2 linked regions of the Homo sapiens genome follow. The protein of the gene in region 1 purifies or fractionates together with the protein of each later gene. This does not show direct contact. Each region holds a gene or a part of one and is shown on either strand. Other genes may lie near its edges.

Evidence for each region.
Region 2: the proteins of DTNA (region 1) and POTEI purify together in Homo sapiens (affinity purification with mass spectrometry; 3 studies listed by BioGRID and IntAct, with this or other methods). This does not show direct contact.

What each region holds. Positions count from the first base shown.
Region 1 is NC_000018.10:34,887,292-34,894,539, forward strand, and holds the end of DTNA (dystrobrevin alpha), read left to right. Parts: intron 1-474; 3' UTR 475-3,008; coding exon of another isoform or gene 3,009-3,149; 3' UTR 3,150-4,553; downstream 4,554-7,248. UniProt on the Homo sapiens protein: May be involved in the formation and stability of synapses as well as being involved in the clustering of nicotinic acetylcholine receptors.
Region 2 is NC_000002.12:130,469,772-130,479,972, forward strand, and holds part of POTEI (POTE ankyrin domain family member I), read right to left. Parts: intron 6,931-10,201; coding exon 6,860-6,930; intron 5,181-6,859; coding exon 5,136-5,180; intron 4,789-5,135; coding exon 4,607-4,788; intron 1-4,606.

The DNA.
Region 1 (7,248 bases):
TAGCCCATTTAGGTATTCAATTTGTCCCTGTTACATCCTGTGGCCACATGGTACACCACTGTCCTTGGCCACTCACATCCAAGTGGAAATTAGAGGATTGGACCATCCAAAGTAGATTTTTTAAAAACCAACGTGGCAGCCTAATCATGGGTCACTGGTTTTATCTCTTTGTCCAAAAGACAGCACAAATATTTCTGTTTGTGTTGCTTTTCCCCTCCAGATGCCTCTGGTACCCACTAAGAAAGAGATCCACATGGAGGACTTCCTGTCCTCTCTTCCAGAAGGTGCAATAGCACAGTGTCCTAGGACTTTCATTCCTGATTGTCGTAGGAAAGGAGTGTGTGTGTGCATGTGTGTGTGTGTGTGCGCGCGCACTTTCTTCTATATTGGGGAAAGGGGGGATCCTAAGTTTCATAACCCTAATTTAGAAACAATTTGCATCTTTAAAAAAAATTACACATTCCTTATTCCCAGGCAAGCTATAGTCAGACAGATGATGAAAGTAACATGAAAACTGGTGATGATGGAGAGCCCTGTGGCCACACAGAGGAGGAAGACAGCAGCCTGGCAGCAGCCTCACCGAAGAGAGGAACCACCACACCCAGCAGCTCCTGACAGACCCCCACCCCTAAAGATGTGTCCTGATGACTATAGTGCAGCTAACTTTTTGTTCTCAGATTTGTAGTGCATAGGTGTGTGTTTCAAGAAGGAAAAAAAAAGACTTCTGTTCAAAGTTAACTTATCAGCTACATCCTCTGTAACGTGGTTCATCCCTGGTTAAAAAGCAAACAAACACAGGCTGAAAACCCATGCTGCTGTTATACACAATGGCAGTATTAACAAGCATTTTAAACCTTTGCACATGATATTGAACCTGTTCAGTTTACAATGACAATATTAATACTGTTTATAGCTAGAAGTTTGATTTCTGAATTCTTTGAGATTTTAGCAAAACAGTTTATTATACACTGTACATTTTTTTCACAGCAATTGGAAAAAAACAACCACTTGCAATCATTCAATAACCCTGAAGAATTTGGTTCCTGAGTGTACAAACTCAGAGCCCGGAAGCCAAGAAGGGTCCTTGGCCTGCACGGTCTGTAGTTGACTCCAAGTCTCTGTGAGCAGTGACTTGAACCAAACACACCAGGAATAATCCATTCTTTGGGGCCTCTTTCCAACTCGAGGTTGTTTTCTTTCAAGATACTCTAATCAGCCATAGAATTTAGTGTAAATATTTTTTTTTCCAAATAGATATCATATTCAAAAAAGGCAGCATTCAAATTATATAGAATCTAGTTTTTAAAATCAGCACAGATCTTCTTAAAAACTGTGAACTATGTTTTGAAATACTCGTTACTAAAGCTGTTTATAAACCACAGGTGCCATAAGATCCCCAAACGGACTAAAGTTATCTCTGCTCTTCCATGGTCTTGTTCCTCTCGTTTTGGCTTTAGGAAGCATGTCTTTAACAGCACCGCTCGTTCACAAGTTCCCCCATCAAGTTGTTTGGAGGCCTTCAGCTTTAAATGTACAGGCTTAAAGTGCGCTTGCAAACGTTTGCTCTCCTTTTTTTCTGAATGTTGATTGCCTTAGCTGGCCACCTGGTGTTCTGCATGTAGCCTTCTGTGGTCATGTGAAAGGAGACAGGCTCTTCTAAGTTGAGTTGGGATTTTTGCACTCAGTGAAAAGCTGAAGTGCAAAAGAGCTATCAAAGACAAGAGGATAAAAGACTGGGATAGTCTTTTCCAAGGACCCTCTTTAGAGGGCCCTAAAGACCTCCTTTGGGAATTCTGGGGAAAAAGAAAAAGTAATCTTCTACTTGCTTCAAGATTTGATTTTTTTAAAAAAGCCTGCGACCTATTCAATACATTATGCTTAAATTAGCAGTTTCTCTGGAATTCCTGTCTCTCCTTTAAAAGAAAGGAGAGAACATTTTAGAACAATAGTTCTCAAAGTGTGTTCCCCGGACAAGCAGCATCTGCAACACTTAGGAAGGTCTTCGAAATACTAATTTGTAAGCCCCACCTCAGGCCTACTGAATCAGAAGCTCTGGGGGTTGGGTCCAGAAGTCTGTTTTAGTCAACCCTCTAGGTGATTCTGATGCTCGCTAAAGGTTGAGAACTACTGCTTTAGAATGAAGTCGTATAATAAAGTCTCTGAAAAGGCCTTATTCAGAATAAGCAAGAAAGGTTCTGTGATTCACTTTTGCTTCTGGGGCTGGCAAAAACCTTCTCTGAACCCACACACCAAGTTCGTAGTTGGTAGGTGCCCAGCCAAGTCCTGACATCTTCATGCCCCCTCTGCAGAGGGCGGCTGTACGATGTTCACATGTCTGCGTTTGGTCAGACATCATCTCCTTGGCTGCCCTTTGAAACCAAATCACTTGCCTTGGGGATAAAGTGCTCAATTGGCATTAGTGAGAAGCCCATCCTATCCCTTGACATACTTAATCATATATCTCTCCAGAGAACTCACCTGACAAATGTCTCTGAGCACAGGCTGACACCAAAGTGGCACAACTGCACAGTTCTCAGATTTCTTTGCACAGATTGATTTTTATTGCGGGTTTTGTTGGGGTGTCTTAATGTTCATCTCTTTTCCACTGCCCATCCTCTGTGAACCCATACCTCTCTAGATGGAGCAGGTGGCCACTGGTGCCTCATACTCAGTATTGAAAACCACTACATCCCAGCTACCTATAATGCTGTCAGCTCAAAATCATAGCCAGGTAGTTCTTGAACTCAGAACTTAAATCCTGCACGTGGCACTCCACCACTGACTGGACCGAGCTGGCATATGTTGTTTCTTTGTGTTTCTACATCAAAATGTTCGTCTAAGATTTGAACTGTTCTGCTGATAACCTTCCCCGTTGTCATAGCTATTTCATTGCCAACCAACTCCATCACATGGTTGTTGATATCGTCATATAAAGCCATTGCAAGGACTCTGGAAACTGCCGCCAATGACCAATTTCTGACTAACCAGCCACCTTTTCTCTCTCTTAGCTCCACGTCAGCACTGAGACCAGACTCGAGCACCCCTGTCCTGTAAGCGAGACAAAATGGCGTGTGTTATTTTGGGGTTTTGTGTTTTTTGGTGGGTTTCTTTCCTTGGCTCTCCAGATTTACTTTTGGGGCCTGTTCTAAGTGCAAACCCAGCAAGTTTCACTTGTCCTGTCCATTAGATACAACTACATCTTGCGGGGGTTGTTTCTTTCTTGTTCCACAATGAATTGCACATCCATCTCCATCAGAGCTGATAGCCTGTTAATAAGCACTGGTCTAACACAGCCAACCCTCCTCCACAGCGCCATATTAATGGAGGAGGGGAGGAAGGTGAAATCTACTGCATGGGATTCAGGAAACAGTTGTGGTTGGTCAGGACGGAAGTTGGGGTAAGTTTGGTTGGTCAGAGGGAGTTGTGCTGGAGATTGTGAAAAATGGGTTCTTGAATGATCTACTATAAGGCAGGGAAGGTTCATTTGTAAGTAGTAATGTGAACTGAATTGCATTAAGAGTGTGTGGCCTTTGTTGTGATATACTATGTATTTTCTTATATGCATGAGCCAAACTGTTGCATCATAATTTAGCACTGATGTCTGCTTTTATTTTGATCATCTTTGTCCACCCTTATTAGTTCTTGGCTGTTAACCGTAGATAGATCTTGTAAATCCAGCAACCTTTGGTTGCTGCATTCCCCTTGGTTCGATTCCACGCAAGGAGCCACAAGTGAGAACTCCACTGTCCTTAGAAGAAAGGGCATTTTTACTTTTGAACCAAAAAGAGAAAAAAAAATCAGAAGTGTTGCATCTTGAGGCGAATTAACTGTAAGACATTTTTAATTATGACTACTGCAATTTGACACCATTTGAAATAATCAATTCAGAGACACTAAAGATTTCACAATATTCATTGGTATTGTAAAAAAAAAATACTATTGTATGGATTTTTGTATTGCTGTTAAGTATTGTTTTGTGTGTGTGTGTGTGTGTGTGTGTTGGAACCTCCTGGGGACATGTTATATTTTGAAGTGATTAAACTATTTAATTGTGTGTCTATATTTTGGAGTGGAATAATTTCTTCATTAAAAAATGTTTTTAAAAACACTATATCTTGGGTGGTTTATTCCTTTGTTTCAGTGAATCTTTCCTAAAGCAACGTGGAGTCAGTCTGTTGAAAGAAGGAAGGCAGGTACTTGCAGTTTAAAGCAGGACCCATTGATGGAATATTGAGCCACCGAGGCAAAATAGCTCACCTTCTCTTGCCTTGGGGGATGCATGGTTTTTACCATTCTACTGTTTTATTAGCATCTGTGAGCATCTAATAGAAATACTATTCTGCTATTTATGGAAATCCTTATTATAATTGATATGGAAGTGAGTTTGAAATTCTAACAGCTAACATATTTCATGTTTGTATCACACACTGTTCTTAACACTTTATGTGACTTCACTCAATTCTTTGAATCCTCTGCATCTAGCCATGTATTCTGCAAATATTAAGTGCTCAATGGTTTTTTTGTTGAATTACTGAATAAATGAATTAGTGGTGTTTGGTTTGTTTTTTTTTCTAGAGCTAGTGATAAAGGAGGATCAGCAGGGCTAGGAAGTCAATGTGGTGACAGCAACAGCAATCAAATTAAGAGATCCAAGGAGAGTGTCAAGAGTCCACATGTTAAGTGTTCTTATCTCAGAAACAAACCACAAAGGGACACAAAGAAACTTTTGGAGGTGATGGCTATGTCTATTACCTTGATTGTGGTGATGGTTTCACAGGTATTTAAGTATGTCCAAACTCATCAAATTGTATACATTAAATAGGTACAGATTATTGTGTATCAATTATACCTCAATAAAACTTTAAAACAAACACATACAGATATAAATCTTGCACGCACAGATGGAAGAAATAGAGTCCACAGTGATGATCACTCCTTCTATTCACATCTCTCCCTCAGAACCTCTGTGAGTCCCATGCAATGGAAGATTGGGTGTTTCACTTGCTGAAAGATCTGTTTTCTTTACAGGATCTGTGAGTCTGGCTCTACGCTTCAAGAATAGCATTTTTGGGAAATCTGACTCTGGTGCTGAAAGTCTGTGCTCACAGGGTTGGGTTGATTTGAAGTCCATGGAAACAACTGTCAACACTCTAGACGCACTAGAGAGAGAAATTAAGAAGTTCTCCATCAATTACAAAGGCAAATACTGACCTGAGATAATCGTGAGAGGGAACTCACACAGTCCACTTCCCTTTGAAGGTGAGAGCCAAGGGCATGTCCAGCAGCTCCTGTCCACATCCCTTTGGGCGCTATCCCAGTGACTCACCACTTCATCTCTTAGGGGCCACATTTAGCTCTGCCCTACCTCAGCATTTCCCAAATTTATTGAATTACAAAAGCCTCCTGAGAAGTTGATTAATTCTGATTTGGCAGATGTAGAGTAGGGTCAGGTAATCTGGATGGTATTTTTAATAAGCACTTCAGGTGATGCTTACAGTCTGACCAGTTTTAACAAATGCTATTATGCTATTTCTTTGCTGCTCAAAATATGGTCCAGTGACCAACAGAATTAGCATCACCTGGACTTTGAGGATTCCCGTATATAGGACATAAAGATACCCTTCCCAGAAGTTGCCATCATCTAATCATGTGATTGATCTTTCTGGTGATCAGCCCCATTCTGAAGCTATCTAGGAACCTACAAAGAGTCACCTCATTAGCATAAAAAATATACTCTTGTCACTCAGGAAATTCCAAGGGCTTTTGAAGCTCTGTGCCAGGAGCCAGGTACAAAGACCAGAGAGACCACATATATTCTCCATTATGCTACACAATAATACTTGCTTTTATATTTGCCCATGTAGTTACCTTTACTGTAGACCTTTATTTCTTCATACAGCTTCAAGTTACCATTTAGTGTCCTTTCATTTCAACTTGAGGACATCTTGTAGCATTTCTTGCAGGGCAGGTCTACTTGTAGTGAACCCCTCAGCTTTTGTTTATTGGGAATATCTCAATTTCTTCCTCACTTTTGAAGGGCAATTTTGCCAGATACAGAATTCTTGGTTGATAGGTTCTTTTCTTTCAGCACTTTAAATATGCCCACTGTTTTCTGGCTTCCATAGTTCCTGATAAATAGCCAACTGTTCATCTTACTAAGGTTCCCTTGTACATGATAGTTGATTCTTTCTTGTTGCTTTCAAGATTCTCTGTCTTTGACATTCAACAGTTTGATTACAATGTTCTTGATGTGGACCTCACTGAATTTATTCTACCTAGAGTTCATTGTGCTTGTTGGATGTATAGAAATAAATTTCACAGATAATTTTTCAGGGAGATTGGTTAGGACATCACTGCAATAATCCAAACAAAAAGAAATAATGATAGTTTAGACTAAGGGTAGAGTAAAAGTGGTTATATTCTAAATATGTTTTGAGGGTAGAACCAACAGATTTTGTGGGTAGATTGGATGTGTGTGAGAGAAAGAGAAGAAATAAGGATGATAAAATAATTTGAGAACCCAAATAACTGGGAGAATTAAACTACTGAGAAAGAGCAGAATTTGGGTGGGTAGAATTTCAGGAGCTAATTTCTGGACTTAATACCTTCGAGATGCCTATTAAACATCCAAGTGAAAAGAGGGAGGAGTATTGGAAATCTAGGCTTGAAATTCAGAAGCAAAGTCTGAACTGGTACTACAAATCTTGACATCATCACTATGGAGATAATAAAAGAGACTGAAAAGGAATGGTCAGAAATGTAGGAATAAAATCAGGAGCTGTGGTGATGATCAACTGTGTTGATGCAGCAGCTGTCACATGAGCATTGAATTGAATTGATTTAATCATGTTCAAAGAATCTCTTTGCTATTTTCAAGCTTGAAGAACTCCTATGTTCTTAATGAAATCTTCATGAACCCTGAGTGAAAAGTCATGTTTGCTTTTCCTCTAAAAGCCTCAAGGGAGTTGAGTACTATAATAAATCCACAGAGTTGATTAGACGAATGGATACCTAGAATAACGAATGCAGAGAAGTCCTTAAAAGGGCTGATGGAGCTGAAAACCAAGGCTTGAGAACTACGTGAAGAATGCAGAAGCCTCAGGAGCCGATGCGATCAACTGGAAGAAAGGGTATCAGTGATGGAAGACGAAATGAATGAAATGAGCCGATTCTGATTTCCATCTCCACACACCCTCAAAAGCTAGCTCCTTTTCCTAGTTTCCACTTGGTGAGATCAATCCACAAAGA
Region 2 (10,201 bases), on another chromosome or scaffold:
TCCCAGCTCCTCAGGGGGCTGAGGTAGGAGAATCGCCTGAACCCAGGAGGCAGAGGTTGCAGTGAGCCGAGGTCACACCACTGCACTGCAGCCTGGGTGACAGAGCGAGACTCTGTCTCTAAATAAATAAAATACCAGTAAAGCTTGTAATTTCTCTAACTCATTTTACCATAATTGCAATTATCATGATTACCAGTAAAAGAATAGTGAATAACCACAATATTGGGCTTTTCTCCCTAAGTGAAAAAATATTAATATAAAGAATGTAGCTTATTATAAAAAGCCGAAAGAATTTTTAAAATACATATAATTACCAGGCAAAATTGTTAAAATGAACCTTGTCAAACATTTTTTAAGTGAGAATCAATCAAACAATATACCCGGGATAAACTCCATTCATTCATTTAATACCTATTTATTAGGTAGCTACGTCTGATAGGCTAGGCCTTTTTCTAGGAAGTGAGGATATGGTAATGAACAATAAAAACCCTATTCATGAGAGTGAGATAAACACACAATAACAACAGACAGATACGGCAAAATACACAGTACGTTAGAGGAGAAAAACCAAAGCAGGAAAATGAAATCTTTATGTGTTTGATGGGAAGGGTGGTGGGAAAGTTGGGATGGCCAGAAAAGTCCCTGCTGAGAAAGAGGATTTTTCTTTAATATAAAGAAACTTTTATTTGTACATCAAAGACTCTAAAAGATGATGATGTTAACAGAGTTGATGTCAAGACACAAATAGGTTTGAAGTTAGAGATGATAAATCACTTTGTTTCATTGAAACTTCCCTCAATTACGTTAGAGAGCATCCCTGGTATGTTCCCAATCGAATCTCAAGCCTGACGCGTCCTGATGATACAATCCTAATTCCTTTCTGTTAGTCCTCATTATCTCTCTTTTTTTTCATTTTCTTCATTTTCTCTGGGCTAGGAATTGTGCTGGTACATGGTTCTCCCTCAGGAAGTGGTTATTCCTTAATGGGTTTCTTTTTACCCTTTTTCTTCTTCTTAGAAAGGGGATTTTAAGTAAAGAGCTGAAGTAATGGAAACAGTAAGCTAGAAGAATATCTGGGGAAAAAGCATTCCAGACACAGGGAACTGCTAAGTGCAGAGGTGTGCCTGGAGTCTTTAAGCACTAAGGGATAGGTAAGGAATAACAACAAGTTCAGTGTGGCTGAAACACAGCAATAGAGATAAGAAACAGAAGTTTCAGCAGGAGAGGTAACATGCCAGATGGTTTACTGCCTTTCAGTTATTAGGAGGAACTCTGCCACATACTCAGAGTGAAATGGGAGGCAATCAGAACGGCTGGGGCAGAGGAATGACAACATTTGACTTATGTTTTAAATACATCCACTGAGATAAGAATTGATGAAAGGGGAAGCTTTTAAAAACCAGGACTATCAATTCCCAGTCTATGACACTCATCTAAACTGCAGATGACGGTGGCTCAGTTGTATAAGATAGACTGGCCTCTGGATATATTCTTCAGATAGACCTGACAAGATTTACTGAGAGATTAGATGTGAAGTGTCAGGACAGAGAGAAAGATCAGTCAAGAATAACACTGAGGTTTTTGGCAGAGCAACTGGAAGAGTTGCTGTTAACCAAAGTAGGAAAGACTACATGAGGTGTAGATTTCAGGAAGGACATCAGTAGCCCAATTTTGGATCTGACAAGTGTGTGATACCCAACAGCTAATCAAATAGAGATGTCAAGTAGGTGGGATGATATAGAGATCTGGAATTAAGGAAAGAGATCTAAGTTGGAGACATACATTTGGAAATCACTAGCATATACACAGTAGAAAAAGTCATGAGGGGCCAGGCACGGTGGCTCACGCCTGTAATCCCAACATGTCATGAGGCCAAGGCGGGCAGATCACCTGATGTCAGGAGTTTGAGACCAGCCTGGCCAACATGGGGAAACCTGTCTCTACTAAAAATACAAAAATTAGCCAGGCGTGGTGTCGCACACCTGTAATCCCAGCTACTCAGGAGGCTGAGGCAGGAGAAGTGCTGGAACTCATGAGGCAGAGGTTGCAATGAGCCAAGATCATGCCACTGAACTCCAGCCTGGGGGACAAAGCGAGACTCTGTCTTAAAAAAAAAAAAAAAAAAAAAAAAAAAACCATGAGAAAGAAGATTGAGGACTGAGCCATGAGAAACAACAATGTCCAAAAGGAGAAAGATGAGGAGCAGCAAGCAAAACAGACCATGATAAACGGACTAGAAAGGCAGGAGGAAAAGCCTGAGGGAGTGAGGTCCTGAAAGCCAAGTGAAGACGCCATTAGGGAGGAGATGCCCTCCATTGGCTCAAATATTGCTGACAGATTAAATGAGGTGTAAGAAAAATGCCTAGATTTAGTACAGAAAAAAATTAGTGATAATCTTGAGGAAAAACAACTCTGGAGGAGTGCTGAAATTGAAGACTTACCGGCATTGAGATCAAGAGTGAATGGAAAGAAAATTTGAGTTCATGAGTGTAGACAGTTCTTTAAGGACAACATACTTAACGCTCATGACTGAGAATGATGTAATTTTCATCCACAGTCATGGAAAAGTGATAGACAAGAAATAGTAGCTTCCAAATTTTACATAACAGGTGGAGTTTTCAAATTTTATGTAACAATTATATATTCTAAAGGTTATAAAAATTATACACATATGGCATTTAGAAATGTCAGACCAAGGTTTTTAAAGGCCCTTTGAACATTTCTAGATTACATAAGCTGATTATCATTTTGTTCATGCTTATACATAAAGACCAAGAAATACTAAAACTCTCAAGGAGAATATTTCTTGCTTGATAAAAATCAGCCAATTCTAGGACAGTTGACACTCATCAAATATACAAAGTAATTGATCACAGTAAAATACTGAGTTCTATTAACAGGAATAAAGTGGGAGAAATGCAGAAAATAATCTTATTTTATAAATGTAGTTTTCAAAATCATATGAAGTCACTGGAAAAATACGGTGAGGTGAATACTGAAATATATCCTTTTCTCAAAGGGAGGATAATGTCACACATGCAGGGCACTTTTACAAATAAAAGTCACTGCATTAGCAGCACCTTCCTTTTAGCACAAGGGTCAGCAAATAAGCACCTGTGGGCCAAATCCAGCCCACTGCCCGTTTTTGTAAGTCAAGTATCTTGGAACACAGCCATGCTTATTCACTTTACAGTCCATAGTGTCAGTTAGCTGGGTGTGATGTTGCACACCTGTGGTCTCAGCTAGTAGAGACTGAGGTCAGAGGATCACTAGAGCCCAGAAAGTCGAGGCTGCAGTGAGCCATGATCACACAACTGCACTCCAGCCTGGGAAACAGAGTGAGACCCTGTCTCAAGAAAATCAATATATGTAGTCCACAAAGCCTAAAATATTTACTAACTAGCTCTTTGCAGAAAAAGCTGGCCAACTCCTGGTTTAGTAGATCAAAGATTCTTTGATGTATTTTAATAAAAGTTTTACCAAATATACTGAAATGTTTATATTAAATATAGATCCCCATGTACAATCCCTTGGCAATATTCAGATTGAGGGTCCAATATTTCAGCACTCAGGCACTGACAACAAAAATTTAGTAACTAGCAATCTTGTTGCTAACAAGGTACAGTGTCAATGTAGCATGTAGCTTCCATTTGCAACACAGCAGATATTACAAGAATTTTAACAAGAACTCTTAAGATGTGTCATCAAACTAAACGCTTTAAATACATTTTAATTGTGAAATAATCAGTATACCCTACATCTAACCTCATTTTTTAAAAATGGTTGCATAATACATTATTTTGGGGATATGGAAATTGAGCTATTTCCTATTGATAAGCAATTAGACTAGTTCCAAATTTTTTACATAATAATACTATAATAAATGTCCTTATACATAAGTATACATATAACATATCTATACAAATATCCTTTACATGTATTATATATGCTTACTCTGTTATATATGTGTGTGTGAATATGCTACTCAATTAATGTTCAAAATGTATTTACCAACAGTATATGAAATGTCTTTTTCAATGAAACCATTTCCCCTGCAGCAACACGGATGGAGCTGGAGGCCATTATCCTAAGAAAACTCATGCAGGAACAGAAAATCAAATGCCACATATTCTTACTCATTAGTGGGAACTAAACATGAGAACTCATGGACACAAAGAGGAGAATAACATACACTGGGGCCTACTTGAGGGAGGAGCATGGCAGGAGGGAGACGACCAAAAAACTACCTTTCGAGTATTTTGTTTATTATGTGGCTGGTGAAATAATCTGTACCCCAAGCCTCCATGATACAGTTTACCTATATAATAAACCTGCACACGTACCCGAAGCTAAAATAAAAGTTCACTGAAAAGAGAAGAAAATGCCTTTTCCCTCACATTTGCCAATACTGGTTATTTTTCAAATAAATTAATGACTGGAAAAAAAACGGTAACTGATTGTTTGCTGATTTTCATTTTTCTGATTAACAGGCAAGGCTCAATATCCTAATAAAAGTATAAAATTTGTTCATCATGAATATTAGCTCAAATTAGGATTAGTTTGACAGCACAAAGTTACCTCCTGTTCAATGTTGCCATAGGCTTACCTGTGATACTCTTCATTCTCAGTGTCAGGAAATTGCTGGCTTTCAGGTGTTCTGCTCTTCCTTGGAGGAATTAATCCATCATCACCATTGCCAGCAGTGGCACCATTAGTCAGGTTTTCTGGGAATCCGACGTGAGTACTTCCGTGCTTCTTCATTTCTTCGATAGCCATAAAATTTTCTAGCTGGAAAATACAGAGAATAAGAAATTATCTACTTTAGGCACATTATCTACTGATAATCAGACTAAAACCAAGAAAGATAAAATAATTGGTCTAAAGCTCCTAAAGTGGCATTACCTAGCATTTTATGGCACCATTCGGGATTATTCCATAATAATGAAAGAATAGCTCTAGGGTTTGCACCTCTTCAAAATTCAATGTACAGAATTCTGAGTTAACTATTTAATTTTTCACTGATGATTTATGCTACTTACATGATAGGATCATGTATGCCTACATTTACTACACTTTGTTAAACAACATAATGTAAAAATCTAATTCAACACAAACATTTGAATATAAAGGTATACCTCTCTATCACCATCCTTATTTATTTCTGGTTCTTGAGATCTTTTCTGCAGATGTAAAAACAGAAGGTTAATTTGCTTGTTGTATTTCTGTGACATTTCCTCTTTTGGAGTGCATGTTTTTAAAATAATTTTATTCTGAAGTAATCAAGTATGGACAATAAAAATTAGAAAGTAATTAAAATTAAACTGTTTAAATAAATAATAATTAAAATTAAGAATTAACTTTTTAATCTATGTTTAGCTACTGCCACATCACTGGCTTCTAACATGTGAAAAATAATTCACCTTAGACAAAGGGAGAAGAAAAACATGAACCAGCAAACTTAACTTTCTCACTATTTGTTTGGACTAAACTTAATTTGTTATGTGTTAAATCTACCAAAAATGAATCAGCAGATGATTTGTAGTGTTCCAAAATCTTCCTCACTTGAAAAGAGTTTACCTCATGAAACCCTAACTAGTGAGCCCCTACAGTGCACTGAAGTGCTTTTTTAAAAGATTCCTAACTGGATTGTAGGCACCCTTTAAACTATTAGGAGCCGAAATCAACACCAAACAGAAAGAAATGCAAATTCTCACATTTTAATTGAAATTATATACTGTCATATGATAGTGTTATGTATCCAGATTATCTGCGTAAGTCCAGTTCTAATATATTCTAATGTGTACTAATGACAGCAGATAGAATTTTTTAATCTGTACTGATTTTCTGCAACTGAAATAAATTAGAATGTTATTGTGTTTGTGCACTAACACCAAAGGTCCCATTCTGCAAGATATGGTTCTTGTAATAGGCAGTTGGGTTGCTTTTATGACCTGGTTCCCTCCCTGAACAGAAACACTGAGGTCAACGAGAGACCACAAGGCAGGATATGTCCTTAACCTTGGTATCAGTGACTGACAATATAAAACTGTGGATTTTCAATCACAGGCCATGATTACTCTTTAACCATGAATCCAGCTCAGGGAATCAGTGTTACATTGTTCATAATTCCTATTGCTTAATAATATGATTCAATCATTGATGTTACTTTCTTTATCATGTTAGGGTGTTGTAAAAATAAAAGAACAAACAAAGTTCTGAAATTTGTTTTTGCCTCTATTCCAAAAGGAGAGATTAGCTATAAGCTAATCAAGAAGGCAGATAAGAATATTTTAAAATAAGAGTATTTTAAATTTTATAGTGGGTTATGTTGAAGTTAAATATCAAATATTAAATTAGAATCTATTGATTCTTCTGTTAAGAAGGTTGCTGATTTTATTACAATAAATTTTAAGAACCTATTAAAATATATATATATATTTTTTTCAGATGGAGTCTTGCTCTGTCACCCAGGCTGGAGTGTAGTGGTGGATGTCGGCTCACTGCAAGCTCCCTCTCCTGGGTTCATGCCATTCTCCTGCCTCAGCCTCCCGAGTAGCTGGGACTACAGGCACCCGCCACCACGCCCAGCTAAGTTTTTGTATTTTTACTAGAGACGGGGTTTCACCATGTTAGCCAGGATGGTCTCGATCTCCAGACCTCGTGATCCACCTGCCTCAGCCTCTCAAAGTGCTGGGATTACAGGCGTGAGCCACCTTGCCTGGCCAAAAGATTCTTAAAAAAACAATCTACTGATTCTCAAAGCCTAGTCTGAAAGGTAATTTCATTTGGACTATCTACTATTATTAAGGCAAAAAACACACAACATTAAACAAAAGTTTAAATTTAAAAGTTTCCATGCCTCTGGCTGGCCATTTTCACTGCCTTTAAGCCTTTGTGACTCTTCCTCTGATGTCAGCTTTAAGTCTTGTTCTGTTGAAAAATCCATATATTCAGTTAAAATCAACCACTTAGAACAGTTAAAAACTATTGCCTTTTAAAAACGGATTTGAGACATTTCATTTTATTTCATAAATTGAGTGTTTCATCTTTTGTGAAATTGTCATTTAAGAAATAATTCTCAAAAACTTCAAAAACCCACTTGGGGAGATACCAGATGTCACCAGATTGAAGACAAACAAACATGTCAAAAATTCCCTCACAAATTCATCCACCCAACATCCATGAACAAAACCACCAGAAACACAGCTTTAAAATACAGTAGAAACATATAAGGTGACACAGTGTACTGTTCTCCACTTCCTAATAGTACCTTATAAATGATTTCCAAAATCACTGCTGACACCTTTATTAGTGTACAACGTCTTCCTAATATCTAAAATGTTTCCCTCCACTATTCTGACAAATTTATTTTCTTTTTTTCTTTTTTCTTTTTTTTTTTTTATGAACCAGGGTCTTCCTCTGTCACCAGGCTGGAATGCAGTGGCATGATCAGCTCACTGCAACCTCCGCCTCCCTGGTTCAAGTGATTCTCCTGCTTCAGTCTCCTGAGTAACTGTGATTACAGGCAAGCACCACCACACCCAGCTGATTTTTGTATTTTTAGTAGAGATGGGGTTTCACCATTGGACAGGATGGTCTCGATCTCCTGACCTCGTGATCCCCTCTGAAAGTGCTGGGATTACAGGTGTGAGCCACCACACCTGGCCTTATTTTCATCTTTTGAAACAATGCTATGTGAAGTCTTCCTTGATTTTGCATGTCTTTCCCCAAATAAACAGGTACCTCCTTCCTTGAGGCTGCCTTAGTACTTTACTGATTTTTCTACTGCATCTTGACCACCTAAACTGTACATTATTCCTCCACATGTCTGTCCCCTCTGCTCCAAGACTGCAGGGGAGAGTCTTGCACATCATCTTTGTAAAAACAGTCTTTGTTTTACTCAGAAATATTTTATTGAGTCCTGCTAAATACATGCTAGGCATTAGGGTTTAAAAAGAATTAAAATAAAGCCTGTCAGAGATGGCTTTTCTAGAACACATGCCCAAGCAGAGACTTAAATATTGAGACTAGCCAGATTAAAAGGGGTAGAGGGCAGGAAAGGGTGACGGCATACCATGCAGCAGCAAGAGCGGGAGCGAGGCCTGAAAGAGTGAAAGTATTTGCCTACAATAGAAGGATGAGTGAGTAGGGCATTGCCAGCAGCTCAGTAATGCCAGAGACAGTGCACACAGGGAAAAGGGCTAAAGATGGAGAGTGGGGCAGAAGTCAGATTATGAAAGCCTTATGTGTAATTTTAAGATGCTTGGACATTAATGTTCAAAAGTGGTCCCGGGTCCTATCTGCATTTAGATATAGATCATTTCAATGCCAAAACCAATATTCCTAGTGAACAATTATTCATTAAGACAAGGTGACAGATAGCTCATGTGGACACAGCTGAGATGATACAATGTAGCAAATACTAAACAATTCTCATGAACACTTGGAAAGTCAGTTCTATAATAAAGTCATACAAATTATACTAAATCAGTAAATATTTGGTTTGGGAAGATGCTTTGTAAAGTTATAGTGCATATGAATACAATTAACAGTCGTGAATTCAGAGCTGTGAAAATAAATCAAAGAAACCACATTGTGTTTGAGTCAGCAATCTTTAGATTTCTATCCAGTCTTTCCATCCAGTCCATAAATTCTAAGTATAATCCTGGTACTCACTCTCAAGTTTACGTTAAATACTATCCCATACAAAAAAACACTCTTTCTCTTACTTCTTTTCATTATGTCCTGCTAAAAAATTCTGATTGGCTGCAGGCGGCAAGAGGGAAAAACACAAAGCACATTTTGCAGAAAATGATTATTTAGAAGTCAGAACTATGACATGAAGCCAAGCAGGGCACTCTAGGACCGAATTTGCTGTGCTGCCTTCATATGCTCCTTGCTCTTTCTTTTCTGGCAGCTGTGACTCACACAGGTCATGGAGAGTATCATTCCCTAAGAGGAACAACTCCGATATTCATCTTTATCTATTAAGTTCATCTGTCCCAATTCTGTGTTCTGTGGATGCTGACTTTCTGTCACGGACGATGATGCACATGGACATTTATTACTGACTTTCAGATTCTTGGATCTTTGACAAGTCTTATTACTGAGAATCAAACTAGTAGGATGTGAGTTATAAATGCTGATTATCCAATGACCTACTCAAAATATCCTACACGAATATTCCATTAAACATGCATAGAAAAAAATTAGTCATTCCTGCTGACCTGCTGCTCTTTGCTCTCCTGTATTCACCAGAAAATTTCCTACTCCTTCCTCATGTCCAGGTTAAATACTAGTGTACAATCTGGAAACCTGTACATCATCTGAGATTTCTCTCTGTCCCCCAAGCCTTTCTCATTCAATTATCACTAAATCATATTGACTATACCTCTCTTCTGCCTCTGTTTTATATTCCCACTGCCACTGGGAACATAAACATTTACAAAATGACTTCTATTTAAAAGAAAACTGCCAACTATTAATGTTATTTCTTACAGGAAAAAAAAATTAAGCAAAACAAGTGAAAAAGGCATAACGAAGGCCAACATAGTAAAATGAGTAACTGAGATTTCTAACATTATTTATTTCACCATGGACGGGTGAAAACCTTATAATACATTGATGCTACTCCAAGGATGTGTAACATGGAAACTATAGCTGACTACTGCAAAAGCTTCCTTTGTCTCCTGGTTTCTTTGCATGATTATCTCCCATCAATCCCAGGAAACTATAGGCCACAGGCCAAATCCAATCTGCATTATGGTTTTGTAAATAAAGTTTTATAGGAGCTCAGTCATGCCTGTTTGCTTACATATAATCATGGTGGCTTTCACACTACAACAGCAGACAACAGCAGGGTTAAGTAGATATGACAGAGACCACATAGTCTAAAATATTTCCCACCTGGTCCTTTAAAGAAAAAGCCTGCTAACCCATTTTACACCATAACCAGAACGCCTTAATACTCAAATTTAATCTTGTGACTCCCCTGCTCAAATTTCTCCAATGAGCCCCTGCAGCACACATTGTTGGCTCCCTATCAATAGCCATTCCTCATTCTTTCTGGCAGAAAAAATATAAGTCTATTGGGATATTTAATATCCCAATCCCCCTCCTCAGCCTCAGAAACAGAAATGTTTATTCTAAGCTAATCAGGTATTTACCTTCCCAGTGCCTGGTTTGGGAATGAGCATGTGGT